7 linked regions of the Homo sapiens genome follow. The protein of the gene in region 1 interacts with the protein of each later gene in a pairwise test. Each region holds a gene or a part of one and is shown in the gene's direction. Other genes may lie near its edges.

Region 1 (3,956 bases):
TTCGACATGAAGTGTACCTTTTCTAAAGACGGTTTCCAGCTGCAACGGCTCCACTTTGCAGGCTTGCAGGGTGTATACCTGCGCATTGGGAACTTGCTGGAACCCCTGATGCATTTTCCTTGAGAGCAGGGGTACTTCCGCCTTGCCGTTAGCTTGTGGAGAACGTGCTTCTTATTCCTGGCAGGCTTCAAGAACAGCTGCACATGTGCCGCTAACTGACCGCGTTGCCATTGGCGACCTGGACTCTGAACTCAGGTTTATTCTAAACCCAGTGAGAGGTGAGGGGGAGTGATGAAAGGGGATCAGCTGTATTTGTGTGTGTGTGTGTGTGTGAGCACCTGACAAATCTATGAAACCGAGTGAAAGGAGAAATGTTAGATTCTTTATTATTTTATTATATTTATATGGAAAGCTCGACTCTCCCTTTGGTAAGTCCGAAGCATGTTGTCTGTTCGACCGTGACTGTCTTCCTCAGTCTGTGCCTGTGATTCCAGTCACCCTGTAGTTACTGACAGAAATTGACTGGACTGTCATTGTGTGAAGTCTAGGAGGAAATGTCCATTTTAATTGTATGATTTGGTCATAAGTAAGGACTATATTTATGTCACCATTATTAGATATATGTACTTTTGTAATGACTGTGAAATACACTTTTCCCTCACTACGACTGCTTCTTTATTTGCTGATAAATCTTAAAACAACTAAGTACGTTGCAAATAATAGTACAGGTACCATCTTTTATGTGAAGTTCTTTTTCTTTTTTTGAGACAGGGTCTTGCTCTGTCACCCAGGCTGGAGTGCAGTGGCACAATCACAGTTCACTGCAGCCTCAACCTCTCCAGATTCAAGTGATCCTCCCATCTCAGCCTCCCAAGTAGCTGGGACTACAGTTGTGCACCACAATGCCTAGCTAATTTTTTTTGTATTTTGTAGAAATGGGGTTTCGCCATGTTGCTCAGGCTGATCTCAAACTCCTGGGCTCCAACGATCTGCCCACCTTGGCCTCCCAAAGTGCTGAGATTACAGGCGTGAGCCACTGTGCCTGGCCTTATGTAAAGCTCTTGACCTAGCATCTGACTGGAAACAAGCGGGAATTGCATTGGGGGGCATTTTCTGGGCCAGTTTCCCTGCCTTATTTTACCTGCAATAGGTGTGCCTACAAAAGTCTTTCTGACATACACACTGCAGGTGGCAGTTCAAGAAGAATCAACCTTTTTCATTTGGGGATATTAGGATCTTCCTTGGAGACTCTGAAAATGGCACACAAAGAATGGCAGTTATGAACGTGACTTCTAGATTTTGTCCTTGTAGGAGGCCTTGGTCATGGATAGGGGAAGAGGGATGATGGGATGGAATGGGAGGGTGGGATCTAGATGACCTCTTGAAATTGTCCCAGTTACTGCTTCCTTCATAACTGTTCACAAAACGTTTTTCATATATACCACCTTGTTTCCCCTGGGAAGTGAGGGGACGAAGCCTTAGAGGGTGACATAGCTAGAAAGTGGAGAAGCTCACTGTTCACTGTGCAAAGCCCCAGTAGTCGGATTCCGGGGAAAAGAACAAGTATCTAGTTTTGATGACAATGTTTTCTTGTAAGAATCCCAACACTTTAGAATAGAAAAGGACCTAAGATTCTCTGGCTCAGCCCCAGCCTTTCTGAAGAAGGGAAAACTAGGGACCCAGATGGTTTAAGGACACCCCAGAGTCCCCAGATGAGCTGGCATTTGAGCTGGTCTGGAGCAGAGTTTCTCCCTCAAAGAACACAGAGAAATCAGAGAGTGGCTGCCATGGTCAGAGGGGGATGTCAACAACAGATCAAGCCGTCATCACAACAGGTATTTCTGAAGTTCCTGCAGGGACTAGGTCTTGCATTTTTAAGTCCTTTTCAAAACTGTGCAGCTTCCTGAACCTTATGCTGTTTGTCCCATCCACTCTTGAAGCTGGGGAAAGACAGCTTTCTTTGGGAACTCTGTCTTTCTCAGTTGACTTCCCAAGTAAGCAGCAAACCCCTGGATAGCCTTGTTATCTACTTTAGGTATTAAGAGGCTATTGGGTTTTACTAGATTAAATCAATAAAACATTTCCTATAGAGCCATATCATACACTGAAGCAAATTCAGAAAGAATGCAAAACTGCTATCTTTTGGGGGAGTCTGGAAGCCTGTTGGTTAGTGTATTTATTTTCTTTGTGGGGTCTTCTGTGAGCTACAGGCACAGTAAGAATAATTCAGAGCGGTACTGGGAGTTGGTTCAATTTCATGTCATCACTTTTCAATGAAGGGAGTGCATTTCCTGAGTAGTAAATGAGTATATTATTTGTGGCAGCTTTTCTGTTAAGGGAGCTTTCCAGACATCTGGTTGCAAAGACAAATAGGATATATATTTGTACTTCTTCTCTGTGGACATGTTTTTGTGACACACAGTTATCTCTAGGAGTTGACGTCTGTGGGCACTAAGGGACTGAGGTTGGGGGAGAAAGCTGAGGAGGCTTTGGAAGAGAAGGTGAGGAGCATTTCAGGATTTGCAGTCCCCCTCCACATGTATCCACATCTGAGCTGGTGGTGTTCCAATAATGAGGCATTTGGGGCAACCAATTTTGGAAGGATAGAATAGCTTTATGTGGAGCAAACTTGAGGATCAATTGGAGTTGAGTGGTTTAAAACTTAAAGATGGCACAGGAAGCTGTATCATTTACAGGTGAAAAAAATAAATGGGTCTGACTTCAGGGCCTCAGCTCTTTGTATTTCCTACTTGGAAGATGGGCTATTAGCAATTTTGAAAGCAAAGGCTTTGGTTTACATTTAAACTCTATAATTTTTTTTAAAAATGTGTTCTTTCTAGTCTTGTTACCATAGCCAGCTGGAAAGGGCAAATTGCAAGCCTATATTGGGAACAAGTCTTCTTGCCGAAAGTAGGGCAGTGAAGTTCTTGGCAGATCTGAGATGAGAATGCCTTCCCCTGACTCCTTCATCAGTGTTCAGTGCTCACCTCCTCTGGCAACCAGTATGCTAGAAGATTAGGCTTTGCTATGATCACAAATTAATTCCAAATCTCTGTGACTTGCCCAATAAAGGTTTATTTCTTAAAATATTTTTATGAGGCTGGGCTGACCACAAAACGGCTGTCTTCCATATGGTGACTCAGGGATCCAGGCTACATCCAACTTGTGGCTGTGTCCCCTCAAAATGAAACGTCTTTGGCTGCTCCAGCACAGGAAGGCACGGCTGGAGAGTTTTCCACCAGCCCTTAAACATTCTATGAGGGGACTCATCACTTCTCCCACAGCCCATTGACTGGAACTGGTCACACTGCCTTGTCTGTGAGCAAGAGGCTGGGAAATACAGGAGCATAGGGCTACTTGGGATGCAGCTAATGTTTCTCCCATCTTAGGGAAGGTACAGCTGCCTGCCATTTATTTGTTCTTTGTTTTTGTTTTTGCTTTTGTTTTGAGATGGAGTCTCCCTCTGTCACCCAGGCTGGAATGCAGTGGCGCAATCTCGGTTCACTGCAACCTCCACCTCCTGGGTTCAAGCGATTCTTGTGCCTCAGCCTCCTGAGTAGCTGAGACTATAGGCACATGCCACCATGCCCAGCTAATGTTTGTATTTTTAGTAGAGACGAGGGTTTCACCGTGTTGGCCAGGCCGGTCTTGGACTCCTGACCTCAAGTGATATGCCCGCCTTGGACTCCCAAAGTTCCAGGATTACAGGCATGAGCCACCGTGCCTGGCCGAGATGCCTACCATTTAAAGGTACCCCAAAACTGGACTAGCCTTTTCCCATTGTCACACAATTATAGCACCTCTTAGTAAAGAGTTACTTTTTTAAAATAAAAGAATTAGCATTGGTAAATGTTAATATTTAAGGAGAGTGTTTTGGGCTGAATTCTTTCCTCCACAAATTCATATGTTGAAACCCTCAGCCCCAGTACCTCAGAATGTGACTACTTAGAGATAGG
Region 2 (4,911 bases), on another chromosome or scaffold:
GTCAAAACCAAGGCTGTAACTACAGTGCTATGACAAAGGATGCACTATTTAAGCACTATGGTAAAATTCATCAATACACTCCAGAAATGATTCTTGAAATTAAGAAGAATCAATTGAAATTTGCTCCCTTTAAATGTGTAGTACCTACATGTACAAAAACATTTACAAGAAATTCTAACCTCCGGGCACACTGTCAGTTGGTGCATCATTTTACAACTGAAGAAATGGTAAAGTTAAAAATTAAAAGGCCTTATGGAAGAAAATCTCAGAGTGAAAATGTGCCGGCCTCACGAAGTACACAAGTGAAAAAACAGCTAGCTATGACAGAGGAAAATAAAAAGGAATCTCAGCCTGCTTTAGAATTGAGAGCAGAGACCCAAAATACCCACAGTAATGTAGCAGTGATCCCAGAAAAACAACTTGTAGAAAAAAAAAGTCCTGACAAAACAGAAAGTTCTTTACAAGTGATTACAGTTACTTCAGAACAATGTAATACAAATGCACTCACAAACACACAAACCAAAGGACGGAAGATTAGGAGGCATAAAAAAGAAAAGGAGGAGAAAAAACGAAAGAAGCCAGTTTCCCAATCCCTTGAGTTTCCAACAAGATACAGTCCTTACAGACCTTATCGATGTGTTCACCAGGGATGCTTTGCTGCCTTTACGATACAGCAAAACTTGATTCTCCATTACCAGGCTGTACACAAATCAGATCTACCTGCATTTTCAGCAGAGGTCGAAGAGGAAAGTGAAGCTGGTAAAGAAAGTGAAGAAACTGAAACTAAACAAACTTTGAAAGAATTTCGATGTCAGGTAAGTGACTGTTCTCGAATTTTCCAAGCAATTACTGGCCTAATACAACACTACATGAAACTTCATGAAATGACTCCTGAAGAAATTGAAAGTATGACTGCTTCAGTGGATGTTGGGAAGTTTCCATGTGACCAGTTAGAGTGTAAATCTTCATTTACTACATATTTGAACTATGTTGTTCATCTAGAGGCAGACCACGGGATTGGACTAAGGGCAAGTAAAACAGAAGAAGATGGTGTATACAAATGTGATTGTGAAGGCTGTGACCGTATATATGCAACCCGGTCGAATCTCCTCCGACACATTTTTAATAAGCATAATGACAAACATAAGGCTCATTTGATTCGTCCAAGAAGATTAACACCAGGCCAGGAAAATATGTCAAGCAAGGCAAACCAAGAAAAATCAAAGTCTAAACATCGGGGGACCAAGCACAGCAGATGTGGAAAGGAAGGAATAAAAATGCCCAAGACCAAACGAAAGAAAAAAAATAATTTAGAAAACAAGAATGCAAAGATTGTGCAGATTGAAGAAAATAAGCCTTATTCTCTGAAACGTGGGAAGCATGTATATTCTATAAAGGCTAGAAATGATGCCCTGTCTGAGTGTACAAGCAGATTTGTAACCCAGTATCCATGTATGATAAAGGGATGTACTTCAGTTGTTACAAGTGAAAGCAATATAATTAGACATTATAAGTGCCATAAATTATCTAAGGCATTTACATCACAACACCGAAATCTTCTTATTGTATTCAAACGGTGTTGCAACTCACAAGTAAAGGAAACGTCTGAGCAAGAAGGTGCTAAGAATGATGTGAAAGATTCTGACACGTGTGTATCAGAGAGCAATGATAATTCAAGAACAACAGCTACAGTTTCACAAAAGGAAGTTGAAAAAAATGAAAAAGATGAAATGGATGAACTAACAGAATTGTTTATTACAAAATTAATAAATGAAGATAGCACAAGTGTAGAGACCCAAGCTAATACTTCTTCAAATGTAAGTAATGATTTTCAGGAAGATAACCTCTGCCAGTCAGAAAGACAAAAAGCAAGTAATTTGAAGAGAGTTAATAAGGAAAAAAATGTCTCACAAAATAAAAAAAGGAAAGTTGAAAAAGCTGAACCAGCATCAGCAGCTGAGTTAAGTAGCGTGCGTAAAGAAGAAGAAACTGCTGTTGCCATTCAAACCATTGAGGAGCATCCTGCATCTTTTGACTGGAGCTCTTTTAAGCCAATGGGATTTGAAGTATCATTTCTGAAGTTTCTTGAGGAGTCTGCAGTGAAGCAGAAGAAAAATACTGACAAAGACCATCCGAATACTGGAAACAAAAAAGGATCCCATTCAAATTCAAGAAAAAATATTGATAAGACTGCTGTGACTAGTGGAAATCATGTATGTCCTTGTAAAGAAAGCGAAACGTTTGTACAGTTTGCCAATCCATCACAGCTTCAGTGCAGTGATAATGTAAAAATTGTTTTAGACAAGAATCTTAAAGATTGCACTGAGCTTGTCTTAAAGCAACTTCAGGAAATGAAACCTACCGTCAGTCTGAAAAAACTTGAAGTACATTCAAATGATCCAGATATGTCTGTTATGAAAGATATCAGTATAGGTAAAGCCACAGGCAGAGGTCAGTACTGATAATTAATGTAGTATAAATACATCATTTACCATTTTATTTTAAATAGGAAGCCATCAAGCATGCTAGAATTGTGAAACTTTCATTATATTTTTTTGTTGTTGACATGAATTAACCTGGCCAAAAACAAAAAAGAAAAAAAAAACATGACATTTGTCATGTAAAACTTTTTTTTATCCCTATGGGACTTGAGGAACAGAATCAGTACTTCAGTTATTGTAAATAGTGAGCTAAACCTCAAATTTCTATCACCCAGTTGCCCTTTTCATGAACTAAACAATTATCTGTGTGATTGGTATGTTTCACCAGGTCACTGCTCATGTATAACAGTACTCTTTATTTGTAGATACCTTTTTTGTATATATTTATTATTGTAAATCATGTGCTGCCACCAGCAGTCTGTAAGTCTAAACTATTAAATGACACATTTATATTTGGAATTTTAATTTTTAACTAAGCGATCAAGTTTTTTAAATTGTTCTTTTATTGTTTTAAATTAAGAACTTTTTGAACTAAAACCAGAAACTCTGCCATAGTTCATTGATTTTTACATGAAACATTTATTTACAAGATGATATCAAGATTACTTTTCACAAAATAGGCACATTATATCAACACTTTGCTCTGCTTTGTAAATTTGCCATCCAGGATTTTGGGGTGGTATTCATGTGAAATTAAAGCAGATTCTCTAGCAGTTTCCTATAGCTACAGTTTTTTTTTTTCATTGCTTCTAATTGGATATAGTTACTATGAGTCCATGAAATACAATGGAAATGTGAATAAAGAATTTACTACATTGAAGATTTTAAACATTTGGTATTAAAAAAAAATCCTTTGTGAATGTGATAGAAAACTAGTAGTGTGGAGCAGTGTAAATATTTGAGGTGGTGATTTGTGAAGTAGCCCAGTATTGCCTTAAATAAAATCACATTTCATTTCTTGTTTTATACATGTGATCTTATAAAGATTTTTTGTTTTGTTTTGTTTTCCATTTTCTGAGATTTATAGATTGGTGTATAGCTTTAAACTGTATAAAGTTTTGTGGAAAGATTTTTTTAAACATTTTTATAAATCTTAAAATTGATATCATCAAAGTGAGCCCATCTTGTGTTTATAAAATACAAGAGTCCTTAACATTTATAATTACATAGATAAAACACTTTCTATAAGGAAGTTGGATGTTTTGATTTTACTGTTTATAGATGTTAGATTGTACAGATTTGTCTGTATTTCTCACCATATCTAATGATACTTTTTTCATTAGATTGGTCTTCAAGAACAGTATTAGTTATAATTATTTTGGTTATTCAGTATATAGTTAGCTCTTACAGTTTAGCTTTATTCACCATATTTATACTGTGGATTCACAGCGAGAGGTAGAGGTTATTCCAGGAGAGTTGATGACCTTCATTTAAAGTCCAACTAAAATCAGTAGTAGAAACATAAGAAAACATCTTTGCAATATTTACTTTTGTTTCTGTTTGCCGTAAATAGTAACATTGTTTTTTTTTATTTTGTGTTTGTTATAAAACAGTTGCATTCACAATATTATTGGCCTGAGATATTGATGATATTGTGATGGTATGAAAATGTGTACATTCCCTGTGCAACATCAGATTTGCAGGAAAAATGAAGCACTTACTGAAATCGCTGGTACTCTGAATAAATAAGCATGGTCAAGGAGTGAACTATTTTCTTTTGGAAATTTCTTTTTAATTTTTATTATTAAAGTATTTTATTTTTAGGGCCTTTTGGGTTTTATTGAATAGTTCATTTCACCTGTTTAAGACTTACTACCAATAAGCATAAAACCTGACACGTTAAAATCCCTGCCCTTTGGTGAGCCCACTGTTATTTATTAAAATAAAAGTTATTTTATGGGTGATTAATACATGGGTTTTCTTTTTCCTAAATTAACAATAATTTAAATAACTGAGTAATTTTAATATTAAATTTTTGTTAACAACTGAATGTTTCCATACAGTTTTCTTAGAAATTGACCTAGCTCTTAAAGGTGGGCACTTGGCAAAACTGCCCTATATAGCACAGTAGCAAGTAGGTTTATTTCTGATCATTGTAACTATGAGCCACTGTTAAGTGAAAATGCCAATGTATTGGGGCTTTTCTTTTGCTCATTAGCTTAAGAAAATTTATAACTAGACATTTCTAATTGTTTTACATGTCATGGGGAAGAGTTTGCCAACATTTAATGAAATTTTTATATTCCAGGTAATGTATACTAAAGGTAATTATGAGAGTGGGCTTTTTAGCATGAAACAAAAAAAATCAAACTATGGTAAAAAGACATGAATTTATAGAATAGCATGTTGGTAAATTTTGATACGGAATGTAATGTCTAAGTATTAAAAAATCATAAAATATATTTTTTTCATGGTATACTTTTCCCCAGCCTATTGTCTTGAGATATCTTCTACAGCCTAAATTTGCTAA
Region 3 (4,911 bases), on another chromosome or scaffold:
TAATTCTAAAGTATAATCACATAGTATAAAAGCTAAGACAGTAGGTGAGCTATATGTGTTCTGTGCTGTGAACTTGGTCGAATTTGTGAAGTGCTGCATCAAGGAGAATCTGAACATGGGGTGTGTGCCCTCTGTAGACAGCTGGGCTGTCCATGATGTGTTTGCCTCATTTTCTTGTTCCTTTTACTTAATTCTTTCATCCTTTAGTGCATAGCTTTTTACTATACTTGGAAACAGGGCTGCTTCTCTTTTTTTAATTACTTTTACTCTAGATATATTATTCCAACCCAACTTCCCCTTTTACTTGATCTAAAACTCCTATTCGGTTGACTCTGTAGTCTAAGTGTAGTTGGAATTTTGGGTAGTGACACCTGTAAAAATTAAATATTAATCTTGACGCTGGTTTTTAAAATCCTCTTTTACCTTGACTTCATGTACTGTATATCTACACTTTAAAAGTGTAGCTTTTAAAAGATAAGCAAGCACAATCTTTTGTGTGTGTGTGTGTGTGTGTGTGTGTGTGTGTGTCACCCAGGCTGGAGTGCAGTGGCATGATCACAGCTCACTGCAGCCTCAACTTCCTGGGCTCAAGTGATCCTCTCCCGAGTAGCTGGGACTACAGGTATGCATCACCCCCCCAGCTAATTTTTTTTTGTATTTTTTAGAGAGTCGGGGTTTCGCAATGTTGCCCAGGCTGGTCTCGAACTCCTGAGCTCAAGCAATGCGCGTGGCCAGCGTTTTCATTATTATGTGTTCCTTTCTAGGCCTTACTCATGTCCTTGTGTATTTTCATTGAGTTTCGAGCATATCATGTGTATATTTTGTACTGTCTTCTATTGTAGGCACTCTTGAGAAGAGTCATGTGCTGTTTCTTTAGCGGGTTTTTTTTTTTTTTTTTTTTTTTTTTTTTTGAGATGGAGTTTTGCTCTCGTTGCCCAGGCTGGAGTGCAATGGCGCGATCCCGGCTCATCGCAGCCTCTGCCTCCTGGGTTCTAGTGATTCTCCTGCCTCAGCCTCCCGAGTAGCTGGGATTACAGGCATGCGCCACCACACCCAGCTAATTTTTTGTATTTTTAGTAGAGACAAGGTTTCTCCATGTTGATGAGGCTGGTCTCAAACTCCCAACCTCAGGTGATCCGCCCGCCTCGGCCTCCCAAAATGCTGGGATTACAGGCATGAGCCACCACGCCCAGCTTCTTTAGCAGGTTTAATGTGCAGGCTTAGCATTAGTACTTGCTGAAGGTTGGAACTTCTTCATTAAAAATTCTAAGAATTTTTTTTTTTTCTTTTTTGAGACAGAGTCTCGCTCTGTTGTCTAGGCTGGAGTGCAGTAACATGAGCCACTGTGCCCGGCCAATCCTAAGAATTTCTTTTGCGGTGGTTGCAAGTCTGGGCAGAACTCTTGTCAGGGGCTGTAACTGGACTTATCTTTACTCCTTTGTCAGGCTGGATGACACCAAAATCCTCCCAGGCAACATGAAGGATAACTTCTGGGAGATGGGTGACACGGGCCCCTGTGGTCCTTGCAGTGAGATCCACTACGACCGGATTGGTGGTCGGGACGCCGCACATCTTGTCAACCAGGACGACCCTAATGTGCTGGAGATCTGGAACCTTGTGTTCATCCAGTATAACAGGTAGCCTTGGGTTCCTACTCCATTCCTTTCCTTGAGCTGAGCAGGGGAGGAGGAACTCGGAGCTGTGTAGCTCTCTTCTCAGCTAAAAGCTCATTTCTTTATTTCTCAGATTACCTGTCTGATCTCTGGAACAAGGATGGGCCTATTCTTTCATGAACTAAACCTTATCGCACATAATAGCTTCTTGCGAGCTATTCCTATAATGTCATGCTTGCTGTACTTCGGGCTGCTGTTTTTTTTTTTTGTTTTTTTGAGACAGAGTTTTCCTCTTGTTACCCAGGCTGGAGTGCAATGGTGTGATCTTGGCTTACTGCAACATCTGTGCCCTGGGTTCAAGCGATTCTCCTGCCTCAGCCTTCCGAGTAGCTGGGATTACAGGCATGTGCCACCACGCCCGGCTAATTTTGTATTTTTAGTGGAGACGGGGTTTCTCCATGTTGGTCAGGCTGGTCTCGAACTCCCAACCTCAGGTGATCCGCCCGCCTCAGCCTCCCAAAGTGCTGGGATTATAGGTGTGAGCCACCGTGCCAGAACTGGACTGCTGTTTTAAAGCCTATTTCCTTGAAGCTTGCCTCAGTTTTGTTTTTGTTTTTGTTTTTGTTTTTGGAGATGGAGTCTTGCTCTGTCACCCAGGCTGGAGTGCAGTGGCAAGATCTCAGCCCACTGCAACCTTTGCCTGCTGGGTTCAAGCGATTCTCCTGCCTCAGCCTGCTGAGTTCTCCTGCCTCAGCCTCCTGAGTAGCTAGGGTTACAGGTGCATGCCACCATGCCAGGCTAATTTTTAAAATATTTTTGGCAGGGATGGGGTTTCATCATGTTGGCCAGGCTGGTCTCGAACTCCTGACCTCAAGTGATTCCCCCGCCTCGGCCTCCCAAAATGCTGGTATTACAGGCGTGAGCCACCATGCCCAGTCTTTTTCTTTTCTTTTTTTTTTTTTTTTTTGAGATGGAGTTTTGCTCTTGTTGCCCAGGCTGTAGTGCAATGGTGAAATCTCAGCTCACCACAACCTCCGCCTCCTGGGTTCAAGCGATTCTCCTGCTTCAGCCTCCCGAGTAGCTGGGATTACAGGCATGTGCCACCATGCTCGGCTAATTTTGTATTTTTAGTAGAGATGGGGTTTCTTCATGTTGAGCAGGCTGGTCTCGAGCTCCTGACCTCAGATGGTCCACCACCTCGGCCTCCCAAAGTGCTGGGATTACAGGCATGAGCCACTGCGCCTGGCCTTTCCTCACTCTTAAATGAACCCCAGAGTTCATTTAAGAATGAACTCTTCCTTTCTCCTTCCTTTCTCCCTCCACTTCCCTCTTCCCACCAAACCGGGCAAATGGCAGATGGTCACAGCCTGCAAACTGTTCTGTAAATGAATTTTAACCAGCAGGGACTGGAGAGGTGGCAGCTTGAGTCTCTGCTTCAACCTCCTCTTCTTCTGGATCATACAGGGAAGCTGATGGCATTCTGAAACCTCTTCCCAAGAAAAGCATTGACACAGGGATGGGCCTGGAACGACTGGTATCTGTGCTGCAGAATAAGATGTCCAACTATGACACTGACCTTTTTGTCCCTTACTTTGAAGCCATTCAGAAGGTACTGGTGCTATTGCAAACATTGTAAACTTCTGTGGAGTTTTCCAGGCTGTACTCTTAACAGTGCTGTCAAAGAAAAAATGACCATATGCTTTGCCAGCCAAGGGTACCCATTTCCATCTGCCTACTTCATTGTTAATAATGTGAGGCTCCACAAATTGGTGTTCTAAATGTCTTAAGAACCTAATTAAATAGCTGACTACAAAAAAAAAATAATAATGTGAGGCTCTAGACCTGAGACAGTATAATTTTTGAGTGTAGGGGCTGGCTGGAGTCTCTCTACTTCCCCAATGTCACGTTCTTGGGGTTATAGGATCTGGCAAGACCGGCATCCTTTCTGCTAATGCTCCTCAATCCTCCAGGAACCTCCTTGGGCAAGGTAGCGCCAGAAAGTCTGCTTCCTAAAGGGCTGCCTCCTGATTCTTATCTATAGGGCACAGGTGCCCGACCATACACTGGGAAAGTTGGTGCTGAGGATGCCGATGGGATTGACATGGCCTACCGGGTGCTGGCTGACCACGCTCGGACCATCACTGTGGCACTGGCTGATGGTGGCCGGCCTGACAACACAGGGCGTGGGTAAGTATGCTGCACACTGGGTGGTGTTTGGAGCGGCACCACGTGTGCTATGTGTGACTCTTTATGAAACTTTTCTTTGTGTGTGAGATTGAGTGTTGCTCTGTTGCCCAGGCTGGAGTACAATGGCGTGATCTTGCCTCACTGCAACCTCTGCCTGCTGGGTTCAAGTGATTCTGCCTCAGCCTCCCACGTAGCTGGGATTATAGGTGCACACCACCACGCCTGGCTAATTTTTGTACTTTTAGTAGAGACGGTTGTTTTTTTTTTTTTTTTTTTTTTTTTTTTTTTTTTTTTTCTGAGACAGAATTTTGCTTTTGTTGCCCGGGCTAGAGTGCAATGGCCCGATCTTGGCTCACCGCAACCTCCACCTCCTGAGTTCAAGCAATTCTTTTCCCTCAGCCTCCCGAATAGATGGGATTACAGGCATGAGCCACCATGCCTAGTTTTGTATTTTTAGTAAAGATGGGGTTCCTTCCATGTTGGTCAGGCTGGTCTCAAACTCCCAACCTCAGGTGATCCGCCCGCCTCGGCCTCCCACAGTGCTGGGATTACAGGCGTGAGCCACCGTGCCCGGCCAGAGGTGGGGTTTTGCCATGTTGGCCAGGCTGGTCTCGAACTCCTGACCTCAGATGATCCACCTGCTACGACCTCCCAAAGTGATGGGATTACAGGTGTGAGCCACCATGCCCGGCCTCTTTATGAAACTTAAAGCCATCTTTCGTTATTGTTTCCTTGTCTTGGGCAGGTGGAAGAATCCCCCACCCCTTTTTTAAGGGATGAAGGGAGTTTCAGCTAGTGTCACAGAGTTGCCACTATATTAAATCTCTGCTGCTGAGTACAGATGATAAGGATTGTATTCAAAGTTGCCTGATAGGAGATTGGCAGGGGCAGGGTGAGGGTAGGTATTGACCAGCCCTGGGAATCTCTCTTACTGACAGGCAGGACCTGGGATCACAGGCATCAAGTACACATCTGGTCTGTCCATCTTTCCTCCCTCTATGGGTAACTGAATGTGAAAGGAAAACAAACCAGCGTTTACCCTAGGGAAGCCTTGACGGGTATTTGTGGGTATGTTACTGAGTCTTGTGCTAAAATTAATGACCTTGGGGAA
Region 4 (4,911 bases), on another chromosome or scaffold:
CCGGGCATGGTGGCTCACGCCTGTAATCCCAGCGCGTTGGGAGGCCGAGGCAGACGGATCACAAAGTCAGGAGTTCGAGACCAGCCTGGCCAACATGGTGAAACCCCATCTCTACTAAAAATTCAAACAATTAGCTGGATGTGGTGGCAGGTGCCTGTAATCCCAGGTACTTGGGAGGCTGAGGCAAAAGAATCACTTGAACCTGGGAGGCAGAGGTTGCGGTGAGCCAAGATTGCACCACTGCACTCCAGCCTGGGCAACAGGGTGAGACTCTGTCTCAAAAAAAAAAAAAAGAAAAAAGAAAAAAAAAAGTCTGCACTTAGTACAGATCTTGCTTTATAACTGTTAGCTACAGATACTAGTGTTACTAGGAGAAAGGCTTTGTCAGCTTCAGCTACGTTATACTGCAGGTACTATAGGTTGGCTTTAGCTTTGTACCATGACTTTTTACAGTAGAACCACAGTCCCTCTTCGGACATGCTGTTCTCAGAACAAAAGAAATGGTGGAATTATGCAATGCTTAGAAATGGCATCGTCGCTTTCACTCACATTCATTTTCCAAGGCAAGTTACAAGGTCAAGCCTGATGTCTGGGACAGGGAAGTACCATCCTTTTATAGGGCAACAAATAATTGGGAACGATGATAAAATCTACCACAAAGGCCTCTTTTATTCTAATCACTAGAATTATATTAGCAAAAAGACTGAGAAGCATTTCATCTTACAAGAAGCTTCACAGTTTAGTAAAGACAGTCACGTAAATAGAGAAATTGCAATATGGTATGATGGCCAGGTTGGACAGAAGAGGGAGTGGTCATCTCTACCTATGGTGTTGAGGGATGAATTACAAGAGCTGCTTAGAGACCCCAGCTAGTCTCAGAAGGGTACTAGGCAACAATAGGCCTGTAGCCATTTGGGCTGAAATCCTGGACAGCGTCTGAGGAGCTTTTGAAGGTGGCATAGCTCCTAATACCACCTGCCTTCTTTGGGACCACATCAGTGTAGGACTTTGACTTGGGCCCATCAGGATACACAAATGCACATCTGTGGTAAGGTCATGTGGTAGACATGCATAGCAATGGAAGCTAGGAGGTTATCTCTTCAGAGTAATTGTGAGAACTGGAGCTCTCCCTTAACTAAGAAGGACTGAGTTTTGATCTCCTAAACTCCTCACAATACAGGGACATAGGGATTTTTTTTTTTTTTCTTGAGACAGGGTCTTACTCCTGCCGTCCAGGCTAGAGTGCAATGGCATGATCTCAGCTCACTGCAGCCTCGACTTCCCGAGGTCAGGTGATCCTCCCACCTCAGCCTGCTGAGTAGCTGGGACTACAGGCGCACACCACCATGCCCAGCTGATTTTTGTATTTTTTGTAGAGACGGCATTTCGCTATGTTGCCCAGACTGGTCTTGAGCTCCTGAGCTTAAGTGATTAGCTTGCCGTGGCCTCCCAAAGTACTGAGATTACAGGTGTGAACCACTGTGCCCATCCAAGACACAAGGAACTGAATATAGATGGAACCTTGGGTTGGGGCAGGGGAATCAGAAGCTGAGTTCTGCACGCCCCAGTTGGTCTACAGGAAACAGTCAGAGGCTCTTTCTCCACAGGCATTATGCTATATTCTGTCTTCTCTCTGACTCAGGCTTCAGGTAGTAGCAGAGACTGATCCAAAACATAGAGTTTGAATCTGAGGTGCAGAGGCAGAAGAAGTAAAGTTTGAGAGCTAAGGGAGAGTGGCAGAACACAAGCAGGAGGGCCTAGAAATGAAGGTAGAGTGAATGAAGGTAGAAAATCCAGGGATCCCATGTAGATGGAGACTCCGTGTTTGTTGAATGAGGAGGGTGTGAGAGGACAGGATCCCTGTTGAAGAGGCATAGGCCTAGGGCCCACAATAAAAGCCCCAGCAATAGCAAATTGCTTCTTCATCCCACAGGTCCTGGCTGCAGGGAAACAAGCTGGGCTTTTTATAATTAAGGTTGGAAGAAGTCACCACAGGCAGCAGAACTCCATCTTGAGATGAAATAACATCTACCTGGACCTCTGGCAGAATTTCAAGGCACACACTGGGCTGACTCTGGCGCCATGATGTTGCCTTATCCTTCAGCACTGGGAGATCAATACTGGGAAGAGATTTTGCTTCCAAAGAATGGGGAAAATGTAGAGACTATGAAGAAATTGACCCAAAATCATAAAGCGAAAGGTGAGAATTGTTGAGGGAGCCGGAGGGATGAAGAGGAAGCCAAGGCTCCAGGTTCACCTGAAAATGCTTCAGAGGTCACCTCTGAGTTAAGTGACTACTTCCTTCATCCTAAGGCTCAGAAGAGCTGCTCAGGGAGCGTCATGGTGGGGGGTGGGGGGTGGGGGGGTCTGGTTTCTCATAGCTTCTTTTTCTTTCCCTAGGCTTGCCTTCTAATGATACTGACTGCCCCCAGAAAAAGGAGGGAAAGGCCCAAATAGTGGTGAGTTGGGGTTACATTTTTTTTTTTTCCTGAAGTGCTGGCTCATTTTCCAGAGAATAGACATATATTCTCTTTCTTGGGAAAGGAAAAGGCGGTCAACATCTGGGTAGATGAGTGAAGCATTAGGCTTTCTTGAAAAAAGTTGTCAAAGCACATAGCAAAGACAGGGATTTTACAGATCCCATTTAGTAACCTGAGCTTTTAAAAAATGCTCATTCCAGACCCCATCTGTTCACTCCCATTTTTCTCTGTAATCCAAGTTTTCTTCCATTCTCTCCTCTAAATCTTTACCACTCCCTACTGCCCAGCACAAGCCCCAAGTCCATGATGCTTTTGTTCCTTCTGCAGCCCATTCTCTGCTGTTTCATCTCTGAATTCCTTCATTATGAATCCTCAAAGTCACTGTCTTAAACACAGCCTGAGGTTTACAAATTAATTCACAAATCATTTCTCCGGTGAAATCATATATGTCAAGGGCCTAGAATGTGTTCTGTGCTCAGTTATGCTCCTCACAGGTTTTAACAGAAAGCCAGGCAGACAGTAGTGCTCAGAAGAACTTCATATGGAGAACCATATATTCTGACGAATTACATCAACTTGCATATCCAGGCTCTCCAGGGTCACCAGCTGTGCTCCACACACAGGGAAGATTGATGGTGGCTTGCTATACATTAATTTACTGGTTGTTTGTAGGTACCAGTTACATTCAGGGATGTGACTGTGATCTTCACAGAAGCAGAATGGAAGAGACTGAGTCCAGAGCAGAGGAATCTATACAAAGAAGTGATGCTGGAGAATTACAGGAATCTTCTCTCATTGGGTAAGGCTGTGTTCTTTCCTTTCCTTCATTAATTCAGTAGAGATTTACTGATCACCTAATATGTACCACAAAAAAATGTTCTAGATACTTACAACACATTAGTAAACAAAATCGTAATCCCTGCCTCCATGGGGCTTACTTTCTAGTGTAAGGAGACAGACAACAAACAAAAAGCCTCATATACAGGGATATTATAATATGGTATGTTAAAAGGTGATAAGTGCAACATAGTAAAAAATAATGAAATAAGGCAGGATAAAGGGGTATTGGGTGTGATAGGGTGGCTGGCTGAAGTTTAAAACTGGGTATTTGAAATCAGTGAAGAAGTAATATTTGTCTAAAGACATAATGTGGTGAGGAGGTTAGAACTGTAGGTATCTAGTGTAAGAGCATTTCAGGTGAAGGGAATTATTGACACGAAGACCTTAATGAAGGGATGTACCTGCCCAGTATATGAAGCTGCAAGGAGGCAAGCAAGGCTGGGGGCATGGTTTGCAAGGGGGAGAGATGCAGCTCTGTGACATAAGTTAAAATTAAGAGTCAAGTTTATTGTGGTTTGGGGGTTTCATAAACTATGTTTTTTTCTTTTTCATTTGTTTACAAACCTAAACGAGGTCAGGAGATCGAGACCATCCTGGCCAACATAGTGAAATCCCATCTCTACTAAAAATACAAAAATTAGCTGAGCATGGTGGCATGTGCCTGTAATCTCAGCTACTTGGGAGCCTGAGGCAGGAGAATCACTTGAACCAGGGAGTCAGAGGTTGCAGTGAGCCGAGATTGTGCCGTTGCACTCCAGCCTGGTGACAGAGTGAAACTCAGTCTGAAAAAATAAAAAAAAATAAAAAAATATTTAAATCTGGGTTGATAAATGTTATCAATTGCAACATAACTCTAGATCAGGGGTTGGCCAACTTTTTCTGTAAAGGGCCAAACAATAACTGTTTTTACAGGTGATAAGCCCTCTGTAACAACCCTTAACTTGCCATTGAGTTGCAGCCATAAACAGTATGTGAACGGATGAGCATTGATATGTTCCAATAAAACTTTCTTTATAGACACTGAAATTTGAATTTAATATAATGTTTATGTATCATGAAATATTACTACTCTTTTTACTTTTTTCTAGCCATTTAAAAATGTAAAAACCATTCTTAGCTTGTAGGTGATACAAAAACAGAGGACTGGATTTAGCTTGTGGGTAGTCATTTTCCACTCCTTGTTCTAGATCAGTGCTGTCTAGTAGAAATATAATGTGAGCCACATAGGTAAGTTTAAATTTCCTAGTAACCACATTTTTACAAGTATAACTACAGGTGAAATCAACTTTAAGACTATATATATTATTTAATCCAATATATTAAAATATCATTTTAACATGAAATTAACATAAAACTTATTAATTAGGTATTTTACTTATTTTTTTGTACTGTCTTTGAAACCTGGTTGTATTTTACACTTAGAGCACATCTTAGTTCAGATTAGCCATGTTTCAAGTGCTCAATGAGCACATGGCCAGTGGCTGCTATACTGGATAGTACTGTTCTAGATATTCCTATGTTTCTAGATAAAACATGTAGAGAAGAATCACATTTTTGGAGACACAAACCAGTTTCAGGGAGGAGTTTCTTT
Region 5 (4,148 bases), on another chromosome or scaffold:
ATGGAACTGCAGCATAGAACACGGCCCGGTGAAGCAAGCAGAGCCCTTCATTTTTGGTTGTGAGAACGTGGGCAAGCCACTTCTCTGAACCTCAGTGTCCTCACCCATAACTGGATAACTGGGGATAAGATACCTGGTGCGTGGTTGTCCTGAGGATTAAATGAAGTAATATCACTCCATAAAGGGGACTCATTTTGTTAGAATTGCACACCAGCATGGGAAGGAACTTGCCTCTTACCTATTTCCTTCACTGTGCATTTTATTCTTTGGTAAACTGAGGCCCCAAAAGAGGAAATGACTTGCCCAAGAAATAGAGTTTCCCAAAGCTGGGCTCCGTCTCATGTGGTGTGCCCACAGGCTGTGCTTCTTCATGGTAGCCTTCTTCCCCGCCTGGCCTTCCCATCGCAGAAGGTGTGCTCAGAGCTGATCAGCGTCCCCCCAGCAACTTTCTGCATCTCTCCCAACACAGGTGCTGACATCATCATCACCTACTACACACCGCAGCTGCTGCAGTGGCTGAAGGAGGAATGATGGAGACAGTGCCAGGCCCAAGAACTAGAACTTTAAAACGTTCCCGGGGCCTCAGACAAGTGAAAACCAAAGTAAATGCTGCTTTTAGAACTGTGCCCTCATGCCCTCTTCCTGCTCACATGCTAGCGGGGCCCAGCAGCCCTGGGTGGTTTTGCCAGCATGCTAACTCTTGTAACTCGCAGCTGCATCCTATGAGCTCTCCCAAGCTTCCCCGCCCCTCCCCTGGGTCAGCCGTGAGGCCCACCTTTGCCACCCTCAGCTCTTTCCTCTGGTGTGGCTTCAGCTTGAAAGCAACCTGGAGTCGGGGGCACAGCCTTTGGGGCCTGGCTGGGAGAGGGTCTTGGAGCATTAGGGGAAGAAGAGAGCAGTGGGATCTTGGGGCCTGAGAAGCCTTGGAACGCTTCTGGCAGCAGAGCTGGGTGTGGGAATGAGGCCTAGATCGATATCCCTGGGTTAGAGTTGAAATTTGCCGCAATTCCACTGGAAGGCATTTCCCACGAGGCCAGAGGTTGCCAGGCTGCCTGAGGTCTCCTATTCTACTCTGAACCATAAACCCAGAGAAGAATTACTCATTAACCAGCATAAATACTGCCTGAGGATCAAAACTCAGAGGCAAAGAGGGAGTTCCTGACTGCTAGAGGTGCCACCACCACAAACACTTTTTATTCAGGAGATACTTTTTGAGAATCTCTGCTCTGTTCCTAGGTTCAGTGCTGGGTCCTGGGAATACAGCAGGACAGACCTCAGCTTATCTCTTCATAGAAATTATACAAAGAGAATTGGGGAGACAGCTAAGAAGAAAACAAAGAAATAAAGCAGTTACAAATTGTGATAAGTGCTTTGAAGGAAAGAAGGGGTCTGAGACAACAACAGGGAAGGGGCCTCTCTTGAAACAGTAGTTGGGAAGGAGGCAGACATGCACCAGTGATGTGGTGACAGGTGCTCTGAAGGAGGTCACCAGGACCTGACCTCTTTGAAGGATCAGAAAATACTTCCCTGAAGGACTGACATTTGAGCCTAGACCTGAAGGGTGAGCCATCAAGCTAAGACAATTGGGGAAGAGCATTCCAGGGAGAGGGAGGAGTTGTGCAAAGGCCCTGGGGCTCCTTCTAGCTGGAGGAATGCAAGGCTAGCTTGTCTGGAGCACTGAGAGGATGGCCTGAACTGAGTGGAGAGAGACAGACCAGGACCAAACCATGCAGAGGTCAAGGGCCACATTCACCTTTTCAGAGTGACTCAATCAAATTTGTAGTTTGTAAAAGTATTTTAACAGCTCTGCGGCAAAGTGCAAATGAAAAGTCTTGATGGCATGGACTGGAGCGGGGACAGTGGGGATGGAGAAAGGGGAATGGATTGTGGATGTGTTTAGAAGGTAGATTCGATGTGAAGGATGAATCTGGCTTGACCTTCTGGGTGGCTGATGGGCCATTTACTGAGATGGGGCAGCCTGGAAGAGGAACAGAAGCAGGGTCGGGGTGGAGGGAGAATACTAAACTTAGCTTGAGACATTTTGCAATAAGGAAGCTATATCTAGAGTGCTTATGTGACTCACCTAAGGCCACTCAACAAGTTTGTGGCAGAACTGGATTAGAACTGCACAGAAAACAGCCAAGCTGGGATTTGAACCCATGTAGTCCAACTCCAAGGCCTCTGCCCCTAACCACTGTGCCATACCACCTCCCAATAATCAACAGCAAAATTATAGGTCTAACAATGTTTTATAGACACCCCTCCATTTATGTGATGGGTTTGCATCCTGATAAACCCATCATAAGTTGAAAATATGATCATAAGTTGAAAATATGATCATAAGTCAAAAATGTATTTAATATACCTAACCTACCAAACATCATAGCTTAGCCTAGCCTGCCTTAAACATGCTCAGAACACTTACATTAGCCTACAGTGGGCAAAACTATCCAACACAAAATCTATATTGTAATAAAGTTGTAAAGAATTTTGAATAAAAATTCAATATTTGAAGTACAGTTTCTACTGAATGTCTTGTTTCATACTGTTGTAAAGTCAAAAATTGTGAATTGAATGATCACAGTTCGGGGACCATCTGCAATTAGCCCCAGTTATACGGGGAGACCAAGGAGACCAGGCACCTACTTGGTTGCAAGTGATGGAAATCCAGTTCAATAGCAAAGAAGGACATGATTGGTTTTCATAACTGGATTGAGATAAGGACAGGTGTGGTTGGGCCCAGGGTCAAACCCCATGGAGGTCTCTGTCCCTTTCTAACTCTCGTCTGTGTTTGCCCCAGCTTTATACTCAGGTGGGTTTTTGCCACTTGCCAGCAACATGATCCTCAATAATTCTAGGCTTAAATAGTCGTTAAGATTTGTAATCCCAGAGAAAGAGCCTTCCTGTCCCATCACTCACATAGCAAATCTCTGGAGGTCTCTGATTGGGCCTGTTCAGGCCACATGGTCCACTCTTGGCTCAGTCACTGTAAACAATGGGATGGGAGATGGCGCCACAATTGACCAGGTAGGCCTCATTACACAGAACGCTGTCTTGGACTGAGCTTTTGCACCAGTGGCCTCCTTGGCTTGGAATGCTTTTCCCCTAAATCTATATGGCTGTCTCTCTTGTTAAGATCTCAGCTCAAAGCATCCCTTCCTCTGAGAAACCTGACCCAACACCCAATCTAAAGTCACTCTTGGAGCTGGGCGTGGTGGCTCACACCTGTAATCCCAGCACTTTGGGAGACCAAGGCAGGCGGATCACTTGAGGTCAGGAGTTCAAGACCAGCCTGGCCAACGTGGCAAAACCCCATCTAGACTAAAACTACAAAAAATTAGCCGGGCATGGTGGCAGGCGCCTGTAGTCCCACCTGCTTGGGAGGCTGAGGCAGAGGAATCACTAGAACACAGGACGCAGAGGTTGCAGTGAGCCGAGATCATGCCACTGCACCCCATCCTGGGCAACAGAGAGTCAGACTCTGTCTCAAAAAAAAAAAAAAAAAAAAGTCATTCTCCAGTCACTCTGTATTAATCAGGATTCAGGTTCAGTGGATATAACAAAAGCCAAAATAATGATAGCTTGAGATGAAAATTTACTTCTAAGCAATCCAGGGCTGATATGTCAGCAATATGTTGTGAGGGGTCTCAGCTCTTGCCTTGTTCTGTCATCATCAACACATCTTGGCCTCCATCTCATGAACAAAGATGGCTGGTGCTGGGCACAGTGGCTCACACCTGTAATCCCAACACTTTGGGAGGCTGAGATGGGTGGATCACTCAAGTCCAGGAGTTTGAGACTAGCTTAGGCAACATGAGGAAACCACGTCTGTACAAAAAATACAGAATTATCTGGGTGTGGTCGTGCATGCCTGTAGTCCCAGTTACTCAGGAGGCTGAGGCAGGAGCGAGCCCAGGAGGTCAAGGATGCAGTGAGTGGTGATTGCGCCCCTGCACTCTAGCATGGGAAACAGCGTGAGACCCTATCTCAAAACCAAAACAAAACAAAAAAATGGCTGGGCCAGTTCCCATCATCAGGTCCTCTTTCCAGCCAGCAGGAAGAGAAGAGCAAATGGAGGGCATGACCCTTCTTTATAAAGTCATGACCCAAAAGTTGCACACATCATTTCTGTCTACACACCCTTGTCT
Region 6 (4,911 bases), on another chromosome or scaffold:
AGAATGGCGTGAACCTGGGAGGCGGAGCTTGCAGTGAGCAGAGATGGTGCCACTGCACTCCAGCCTGGGTGACAGAGCGAGACTCCGTCTCAAAAAAAAAAATATATATATATATAAGATATGCACAGGCACAACTAGCCACTGTTCTATGTGCTTGTTTTCTGATCAACTCTAATTTGAGTTAGATCACTCCTTAGGTTTAGTCTCAACACAGATCAAAACATGGACACTACTCTTAATAGAAACATGCCTCACTTTATGGAATAGATGTTTTTCAGGGCAATTATACTGCAGTCATCCTGTTTGTATCAAATCATATTTTTACTAGCATAAATTTTAATTTGAGAAATGCTTTATCTTCATGACTGAGGTTATGTCAACACAATTCATGCTTATCTATTGACCTAAGAGAGCTGTTAACTAACTTCTATATTACAAGTAAGAATTTGTTGAAGGATAACTTTTAGTCGGCATATTAACTTCCCAAATAGGTGTGAAATGGACTGGGGTGAGTTTATGAGCACCCAGTAGTATGCATTTCAGTGAGCACAGTCTTTTCACTTAAATTCACTTTCTGCTCCTTACTGTTAACACTGTTCAGAGACTAGACTGTTCCCAGCGTGGTTGAAAAATTATAAAATAGATAAACTAATTAACTTCTCCCATCCTGCCTCTCCCAAATTTATTCATTTTCCTATATTCCTCATCTCAGTGGTGGCATCATTATCCACCAAGTCCCCTGTGAAAATCACCCTAGAACCTTCCCAGTCCTTTGTCTCCCACGTCTAGTGGGTCACTAAGTCCTCCCAATTATTCCTTGCAAGTACTTCACAAATCCAGCCTTCCTCTCCAGTTTTACTACCTTAGTTGATTTCCTCTGTGGACAGTTAGAATAGCCTCCTAAAGGGTCTCTCTGCATCCAGACTTGCTCTGACCCTTCCTGTCATCTATTTTCCATCTGATACCTCTAGGAATCATCCTAATATGCAAATCTTATCATGTCTCTCCCCTGCTGAAAATTCTTTAAAAATGTATCCAGAATAGATTTAATCAACTTAGTATGGCTAATGCCCTTCAGAATCTCACTCTTCCCTATTCTTCATCCCTTGGGACTCTTCCAATGGGAGCTCAACTGCAGGCATGAGAACTCAAAAGTGTCCATCTTTTTGAAAACTTCCAGACTTGACTCTGAGCAACTGGGTAGATACTAGCACCATTTACTCAAATGCGGAAGAATGATATAGAACCAAAATTGTCGGGCGCGACCTCAGGGGGTTATTTCATGAATTAACTTTTAAAATGTATAAATATCCATTAGGCTTGGTTTGCATACAATAGGAACCTAAGAATAGTGGTTTAAACAAATAAGGGTTTCTTGTTCACAAATAATAAGTCCAGAAGTAGGCTGTCCAGGGCTGATGGAGCGGCCACATGATATCATCAATGCCACAGGCTCCTTCTACCTTCCCACAGCACTGTCTCAACATGGCCCCTTCCACCTTCCCACTGCACCATCTCAACGTGGCCCTTTCCACCTTCCCCCTGCACCGACTCGACGTGGTCCCTTCTACCTTCCCAGTGCACTATCTCAAGATGCCGGCTTTGTCCTCATGGTTTTTGCTTCAAAGTCACAAAATAACTACTCCACCTTCCTGATCTCATTCCAGGCAGGAATTAGCCCATTGTACACAGTAGGTCCCTTGAAGATACTAGCAAAAATAACCAAGGAATACAAATAGATGGAATTTTAGGAAAATGTGGTTGAACGGTTTAATGAGGAAAAGTAAATGAAAAACATTATTATATCTAGAAAAAAAATGTATCTTAACCATTGTGGGAAGTGGGGAGAGGGTAGAGGCCCATTTGAGAATGGAAGAAAAACTACTGGCCCTTGTGCCAGAAAAAAAATACATATATCTGTACCTGCAAACTTGTGGCCTTTTTGGAGAGGTTAGACTCTGAAAACTCTGTCCCTGGACCTCTAGTGGTTCCTGGACCTCAATTAAGAATCTCTAATTAGGCCAGGTGTGGCTGCTCATACTTGTAATTCCAGCACTTTGGGAGGCCAAGGCAGGAGGATTGCCTGAGGCCAAGACTTCTGTAACCACCCAGCAAGTTCTCCTCATCCGCTGCCCAGACAGAGCTGATTTATCAAGACAAGGGAACTGCAATAAAGAGTTTAATTCACACAGAGCCGGCTGTACAGAAGGCCAGAGTTTTATTATTACTCAAATCAGTCTCCCCGAAAATTCAGACACTGGAATTTTTAAGGATAATTTGGTGGGTAGGGGGCCAGTGAGTCGGGAGTGCTGATTGATCAGATTGAAGGTAAAATCATAGGGAGTTGGAGCTGTCCTCTTGCGCTGAATCAGTTCCTACGTGGGGACCACGAGACCAGATAAGCCAGTTTATCCATCTGGGTGGTGCCAGCTGATCTGTCAACTCAGGGTTTACAAAATATCTCAAGCCCTGATCTTAGGTTTTACAATAGTGATGTTATCCCCAGGAGCAATTTCAGGAGGTTCAGAATCTTGCGGCCCTCCAGCTGCATGACTCCTAAACCATAATTTCTCATCTTGTGGCTAATTTGTTAGTCCTGCAAAGGCAGTCTAGTCCCCAGGTAGGAAGGGGGCTTGTTTTGGGAAAGGGCTGTTATCATCTTTGTTTCAAAGTTAAGCTGTAAGTTCCTCCCAAAGTTAGTTCAGTTTACACCCAGGCATGAACAAGGATAGCTTGGAGATTAGAAGCAAGATGGAGTCAGGTTAGATCTCTTTCATTGTAATAATTGTCTCAGTTATAATTTTTGCAAAGGCAGTTTTAGTTCAAGACCAGCCTGGGCAACAGAGCAAGACTGTATCTCCACAAAAGATAAGAAGATTAGCTGGGCATGGTGGCACGCACCTGTAGTTTCAGCAGCTACTCAGGAGGCTGAGATGGGAAGATTGCTTGAGCCCAGGAGTTTGAGGGTACAGTGATCCATAATTGGGCCACTGCACTCCAGCCTGGGCAACAGAGCAGAATCCTGTCTCAAAAAATTAAAAATTAAAATGATCTCTAATTAGATTATGTGAGCCCCTAAGTGACTATATTTGTGCACTAGAATTAGCTAAAGTGGGGGAAAAAAAGATGCATTTGATGGTCTAGTCCCATAATAAATAACCCAGTGTACCATAACTACTAAGAAACTGTTCATTAAATTAATGGATATGTTGCGTTCAAGATTGAAATCAAATGATAAATTCTGTTTGATATGTCCTATTCATGACCAGCCACATAAATGCACGTATTACTTCGCAAGCATGCCAATGCAACATTAGTTATATGGAATCAAATGAAGAAAAAGAATGTAAGTTTTCATATATAAACATTTCAGGTAAGTTTTTACTTACCACACAGATTTTTCATATTAAAGATTTGGCGACTGGTTCTTTTTACACTGTGTTCTTATTATATGTTTATATTATCTCAGGCACAGATGTTGTTCATCTTTTTCTTTCTGCTTATAACAGCAAAAAAATGTCAGAAGATTTGCCATATGAAGTGAGAAGGGCTCAAGAAATAAATCATTTATTTGGTCCAAAAGACAGTGAAGATTCCTATGACATTATTTTTGACCTTCACAACACCACCTCTAACATGGGGTGCACTCTTATTCTTGAGGATTCCAGGAATAACTTTTTAATTCAGATGTTTCATTACATTAAGGTAATGTTAATGTTATTAATTTATAAGTTAGCAAAGGACTTGTACTTTTAAGTCAATTATGGATGTGAGACAATCAGAAAACAGTTATGAGGGAAGGTGCAAGAGAAATGGGGTTTATTCCATAGCCAGGCTTGGTGGTTGGGGGGAAAGGGTGCTACCAGAACACAGAGGCAGTGGTGAGAGGAAGGAGAAAAAGAGAGGAAATAAGTAAAATAATAAACACAATTAATAAAGTAATAAAACACTTGTGGATTCTTGTGTCTATAAAATTACACGTTTTATCCAGACAGCCACCAGATGGTGGGGTATTTGTTAAAACCAAGTAAAATTAATATTAAAAGTTTAAATGGTATGGTCAATTTGTTAAAACCAAGTAAAATTAATATTAAAACTTTAAATGGTATGGGATCTCAATTACAAGGTTTTAGGAAACTTAAGAAATAGTCCTTTAACGTAGACTAAAGCCCAGTGATAAAAAGATTGCCTCCCTTTAGTCCTGCCCTCGTCCCCATTTGATTTAGACACCCCAGAATACGTCTAATCTTTCAGTACTTCATAATCATTTTAAGGCTCAGAAATCTCAGAGAAAATTTGCTAGAAAATAGCAACCAACCAGAAACACACATAAGGAACTGTATGCTTATTTCTGTGTACTAGATAGCCTTCCTTCCTGAGAGCAAGGATGATTGAGAGGAAAGAGTGTGGCCTGTGCTCAGATCCTGACTTTCTCCTTCACTAACCTTAGACAAAACACACCATTCCCAAAACCTTGCCTCCTTCATTTTATAAAATTGGTGTCATAACAAACAACACTTACCCATAAGGGTACTCAAAGCCTTAAATGACATAAAGTATTTAAAACATTTAGCCTCATACCTGGCCTATAGTAAAGATTATTATTTTTGTTTCCCTTCAGTTTTGGACAGTAACTGGGTAGTGGTCCTGGTAGGAGATCATAATGTAGCGATTCTTTTTTTTTTTAATTTTTTTTAAATTTTATTACTATTATACTTTAAGTTTTAGGGTACATGTGCACCATGTGCAGGTTTGTTACATATGTATACATGTGCCATGTTGGTGTGCCGCACCCATTAACTCGTCATTTAGCATTAGGTATATCTCCTAATGCTATCCCTCCCCCCTCCCCCCACCCCAATTCTTCATTGCCTATTGAAGAGAGAGCGGAATGCTTTGGTTGCCAGATAT
Region 7 (3,500 bases), on another chromosome or scaffold:
GGAAGGGAACGAGGGATAGAGTCAAGGAAGTGGGTGGCTCACGTTGCATGATAGAAAAAGAGACTTAGCAGCCGGGCACGTTGGCTCACGCCTGTAATCCCAGCGCTCTGGGAGGCTGAGGTGGGCAGATCACCTGAAGTCAAAAGCTTGAGACCAGCCTGGCCAACATGGTGAAACCCCACCTCTACTAAAGATACAAAAATTAGCCTGTCGTGATAGTGGGCACCTGTAATCCCAGCTACTCGGGAGGCTGAGGAAGGAGAATTGCTTGAACCTGGGAGGCAGAGGTTGCAGTGAGCCGAGATCGCGCCACTGAACTCCAGCCTGGGTGACAGAGCGAGACTGTCTCAAAAAAAAAAAAAAAAAGAGACTTAGCATTTTGTAAGGGCTGCTTCTGATGTCTTAGCAGGGGATGCTGACTCCAGGGCAGAGCAGCCAGCATGCTGGGGACTCTGTGGGGCTGGGGGCAGGGGAACAGCCTTGCGGGGGGCCTCTCATTCTGCTCCCCTGGGTCACCTGATGGGCAGCAGCCCATCCTGTCTCCTGGGCAACCAGGTGGAGAAGCCAAGAGCTGGCCCTTCACTGAGAGCTCCTGCCCCAGGGATCTGCAGCTGCATCACCAGATGGCCACATGGCCCTGGGTTGAGTGACTCCCCGTCTCTGAGCCTCAAATGTCTCATCTCTGAAAGTGCCAAGCCCTACTTGCAGGGTGGCTATGAAGCGTCCCGGGGACATTAGAGATCAGAGGACCCACTTAACAAGCGCTGCGGCCATCCCTGCAGAGAGAGACTTCACTCCCATTCTGCAGATGGGAAATGAGGCTCAGAGAAGAGAAGAAGAGAGTGTGTGGCAAGGAGAGCACTTCCCTCAGATCTGAGAGCAGAGGCTCCCCCACCCTCCAGCTCACTCACCATGGGGATGGGCAGGGCCACAATGAGCCCCCAGGGGTTAGGGTCAGCGGAGATGACCCTGGCTCAGTCTGTCTGTCTGGTCCCCACAGAGCTGAAACCACCAATGGGTGAGGTCGTCACCCCTACGGCCCCCCAGGAGCCTCCTGAGTCTGTGAGGCCATCCGCTCCCCCTGCAGAGCTGGAGGTGCAGGCCTCAGAGTGTGTCGTGTGCCTGGAACGGGAGGTAAGTCCGGGGCCCTCCCCACCCGCCTGCCCTGCCTGTGGCCACCCTCCTCAAATTCTGCAGGTACAGGGTTGTCTCTGAACGTGTTTTCTCCAGTTCTCTAAGTAGACTGTGCTCATCTAGAAAGAAGGCAGGAAATAAAGATGACCCCTGGTCCCATGACCCAAATATGAGCTGCGCTCACATCATTTTCCGGACCTTTTTCTTTTTGTTCCTACTTAATAAATACATTAGGAAAAAATTTCCCAAATCATGAAATATCAACAACATGATTTACCCTGCAGAGGCTTTAGAAAATCATCTTTTGGCCAGGCATGGTGGCTCACGCCTGTAATCCCAGCACTTTTGGAGGCCAAGGCAGGTGGATCACCTGAGGTCAGGAGTTTGAGGCCAGCCTGGCCAACATGGTAAAACTCCATCTCTACTAAAAATACAAAAATCAGCCAGGCGTGGTGGTGGGCGCCTGTAAGCCCAGATACTTGGGAGGCTGAGGCAGGAGAATCGCTTGAACCCGGGAGGCAGAGATTGCAGTGAGCCAAGATCCCACCACTGCACTCCAGCCTGGCAGACAGATCGAGATTCCATCTCAAAAAAAAGAAAAAATCATCTTTTAAAAATTCATTAACACTTACTCTAAAAATTACACAGAGCAGTGAATGAAATACAAATCCTCCTTTGCCTCCACTGAGGGATCCTACTTAGAAAAGCAGCCATGTTTGCAGTTTGATGATTCCAGGGTCTCCCGTTGACCTGACTCATGCCATGATATGGATGGACCTATTGGTTCCAAATATAATCCCTGTTCTGGGGCCCTTGGCATTCCAGACAGCTTTGAGCGGAGCTTGGATCAGTTCCTGAAAGCAGGAGATGCTGAGGCAAAGTGTGGTCCTGAGTCAGTGGCTGCTGCTCCGGGTTGGGATTGTTTGTAGACTGAGGAGTTCAGGGCCTGGGCAAGTGCATCAACAAGAAAGAAGCCTGAACACCCTGCGTGCCCTCCGGCAGGGGCCGGCGGAATAGGCCTCCGTCGCCTGTCCAGAGCGCAGGAATATAATCCCCAGTTTTATTTAAGAAAGAATCAGTTGGGGCATTTATATGGGTATTTATATTTTTTACAAACTATAGAGAAATAGACAGCAAACTGCTAACAGAAGGCCTAGGTTACCTGTTTCGGCCGTGCCTGTTCTGTTTCTGTGGTGGTCAAATGCCCGAAGGCCCCACTATCAGGCGTTTATGGTAAAGATGCTAAAGAATAATGAAGGGGGCCGGCATGGTGGCTCACGCCTGTAATCCCAGCACTTTGGGAGGCCGAGGCGGGCAGATCACTTGGGGTCAGGAGTTCGAGACTAGCCTGACCAACATGGTGAAACCCCATCTCTACTAAAAATACAAAAAATTTAGCCAGGTATGGTGGTGCACGCCTGTAGTCCCAGCTACTTGGGAGGCTGAGGCAGGAGAATCACTTAAACCCGGGAGGCTGAGGTTGCAGTGAGCTGAGATCCCACCACTGCACTCCAGCCTGGGCAACAGAGTGAGACTCTGTCTCAAAAAAAAAAAAAAAAAAAAAAAAGACGGGCCTGGGACTCCTGGAACCCGGTAGGGCCAGCCACATGCTCCCGCTCTCCCTCCCCAGGCCCAGATGATCTTCCTCAACTGTGGCCACGTCTGCTGCTGCCAGCAGTGCTGCCAGCCACTGCGCACCTGCCCGCTGTGCCGCCAGGACATCGCCCAGCGCCTCCGCATCTACCACAGCAGCTGAGTGCTGCCCGCCCACCTGGGCCTGGTCCTAGCCCTGCCTCGGCCACTGTGAGCCCCGGGCTCCTGCTCAGCCTTGTGCCAGCCAGACTCGTATGAGGCTCCCCCCTGCCCTGGGCCCCTTCCCCACTGCCCAGGAGCCCCCATCCTAAGCTCCAAGCATGTCTGGGCCAGGCAGAGGTGCTCCTCATCCATGACACCACCAGTCTGAATGGTCCTGGGGGCTGGGGCTGGAGAGGCCGCTGCACCACCACCCGAGCCTGGGAGCCAGCGTCCCAGCCTAATCACGGATCTGCTGCCTCCCAGCTGTCTTGACTGAAGGCCACCGCCCCTGCAGGAGCTTGGGTCCTCATCTGGGGGCCATGCACAGGCCCGTCCCACCCTGCATGTGGGAAGGGAGCAGGAGGGCCTGGCTGGGTGAGGGGAGGCCTTCCTGGGAAGGCGTGTGGTGCAGGCCTGTGCTCACAGTGGCACCAGCAACCCTGGGTCTCCCTCTCTGCTGCTCCCCAGAACCCCGGGGCCCTCCTGCTCTCCACAACTGTCCCTCCTTACCCCATGTAGCTCGATCCGAAGCAGGAGTGTCAATAAACCTGTCTTCAGTGCGCTTCTGGCCT

What was found.
Region 2: the proteins of HUNK (region 1) and ZNF292 interact in a two-hybrid assay, tested with the Homo sapiens proteins (one large-scale study listed by BioGRID and IntAct).
Region 3: the proteins of HUNK (region 1) and AARS1 interact in a two-hybrid assay, tested with the Homo sapiens proteins (one large-scale study listed by BioGRID and IntAct).
Region 4: the proteins of HUNK (region 1) and ZNF343 interact in a two-hybrid assay, tested with the Homo sapiens proteins (one large-scale study listed by BioGRID and IntAct).
Region 5: the proteins of HUNK (region 1) and ALAD interact in a two-hybrid assay, tested with the Homo sapiens proteins (one large-scale study listed by BioGRID and IntAct).
Region 6: the proteins of HUNK (region 1) and ASPA interact in a two-hybrid assay, tested with the Homo sapiens proteins (one large-scale study listed by BioGRID and IntAct).
Region 7: the proteins of HUNK (region 1) and LRSAM1 interact in a two-hybrid assay, tested with the Homo sapiens proteins (one large-scale study listed by BioGRID and IntAct).

What each region holds. Positions count from the first base shown.
Region 1 is NC_000021.9:32,001,341-32,005,296, forward strand, and holds the end of HUNK (hormonally up-regulated neu tumor-associated kinase), read left to right. Parts: 3' UTR 1-2,724; downstream 2,725-3,956.
Region 2 is NC_000006.12:87,259,340-87,264,250, forward strand, and holds part of ZNF292 (zinc finger protein 292), read left to right. Parts: coding exon 1-2,462; 3' UTR 2,463-4,911. UniProt on the Homo sapiens protein: May be involved in transcriptional regulation.
Region 3 is NC_000016.10:70,268,507-70,273,417, reverse strand, and holds part of AARS1 (alanine--tRNA ligase, cytoplasmic), read left to right. Parts: intron 1-1,445; coding exon 1,446-1,637; intron 1,638-3,077; coding exon 3,078-3,222; intron 3,223-3,654; coding exon 3,655-3,800; intron 3,801-4,911. UniProt on the Homo sapiens protein: Catalyzes the attachment of alanine to tRNA(Ala) in a two-step reaction: alanine is first activated by ATP to form Ala-AMP and then transferred to the acceptor end of tRNA(Ala). Also edits incorrectly charged tRNA(Ala) via its editing domain.
Region 4 is NC_000020.11:2,491,067-2,495,977, reverse strand, and holds part of ZNF343 (zinc finger protein 343), read left to right. Parts: intron 1-453; exon of another isoform or gene 454-563; intron 564-1,933; 5' UTR 1,934-2,082; coding exon 2,083-2,200; exon of another isoform or gene 2,201-2,227; coding exon of another isoform or gene 2,228-2,285; intron 2,286-2,400; coding exon 2,401-2,459; intron 2,460-3,152; coding exon 3,153-3,279; intron 3,280-3,893; coding exon of another isoform or gene 3,894-3,946; exon of another isoform or gene 3,947-4,129; intron 4,130-4,911. UniProt on the Homo sapiens protein: May be involved in transcriptional regulation.
Region 5 is NC_000009.12:113,384,683-113,388,830, reverse strand, and holds the end of ALAD (delta-aminolevulinic acid dehydratase), read left to right. Parts: intron 1-469; coding exon 470-531; 3' UTR 532-2,519; downstream 2,520-4,148.
Region 6 is NC_000017.11:3,478,094-3,483,004, forward strand, and holds part of ASPA (aspartoacylase), read left to right. Parts: intron 1-3,509; coding exon 3,510-3,705; intron 3,706-4,911.
Region 7 is NC_000009.12:127,500,010-127,503,509, forward strand, and holds the end of LRSAM1 (E3 ubiquitin-protein ligase LRSAM1), read left to right. Parts: intron 1-1,000; coding exon 1,001-1,134; intron 1,135-2,764; coding exon 2,765-2,890; 3' UTR 2,891-3,490; downstream 3,491-3,500.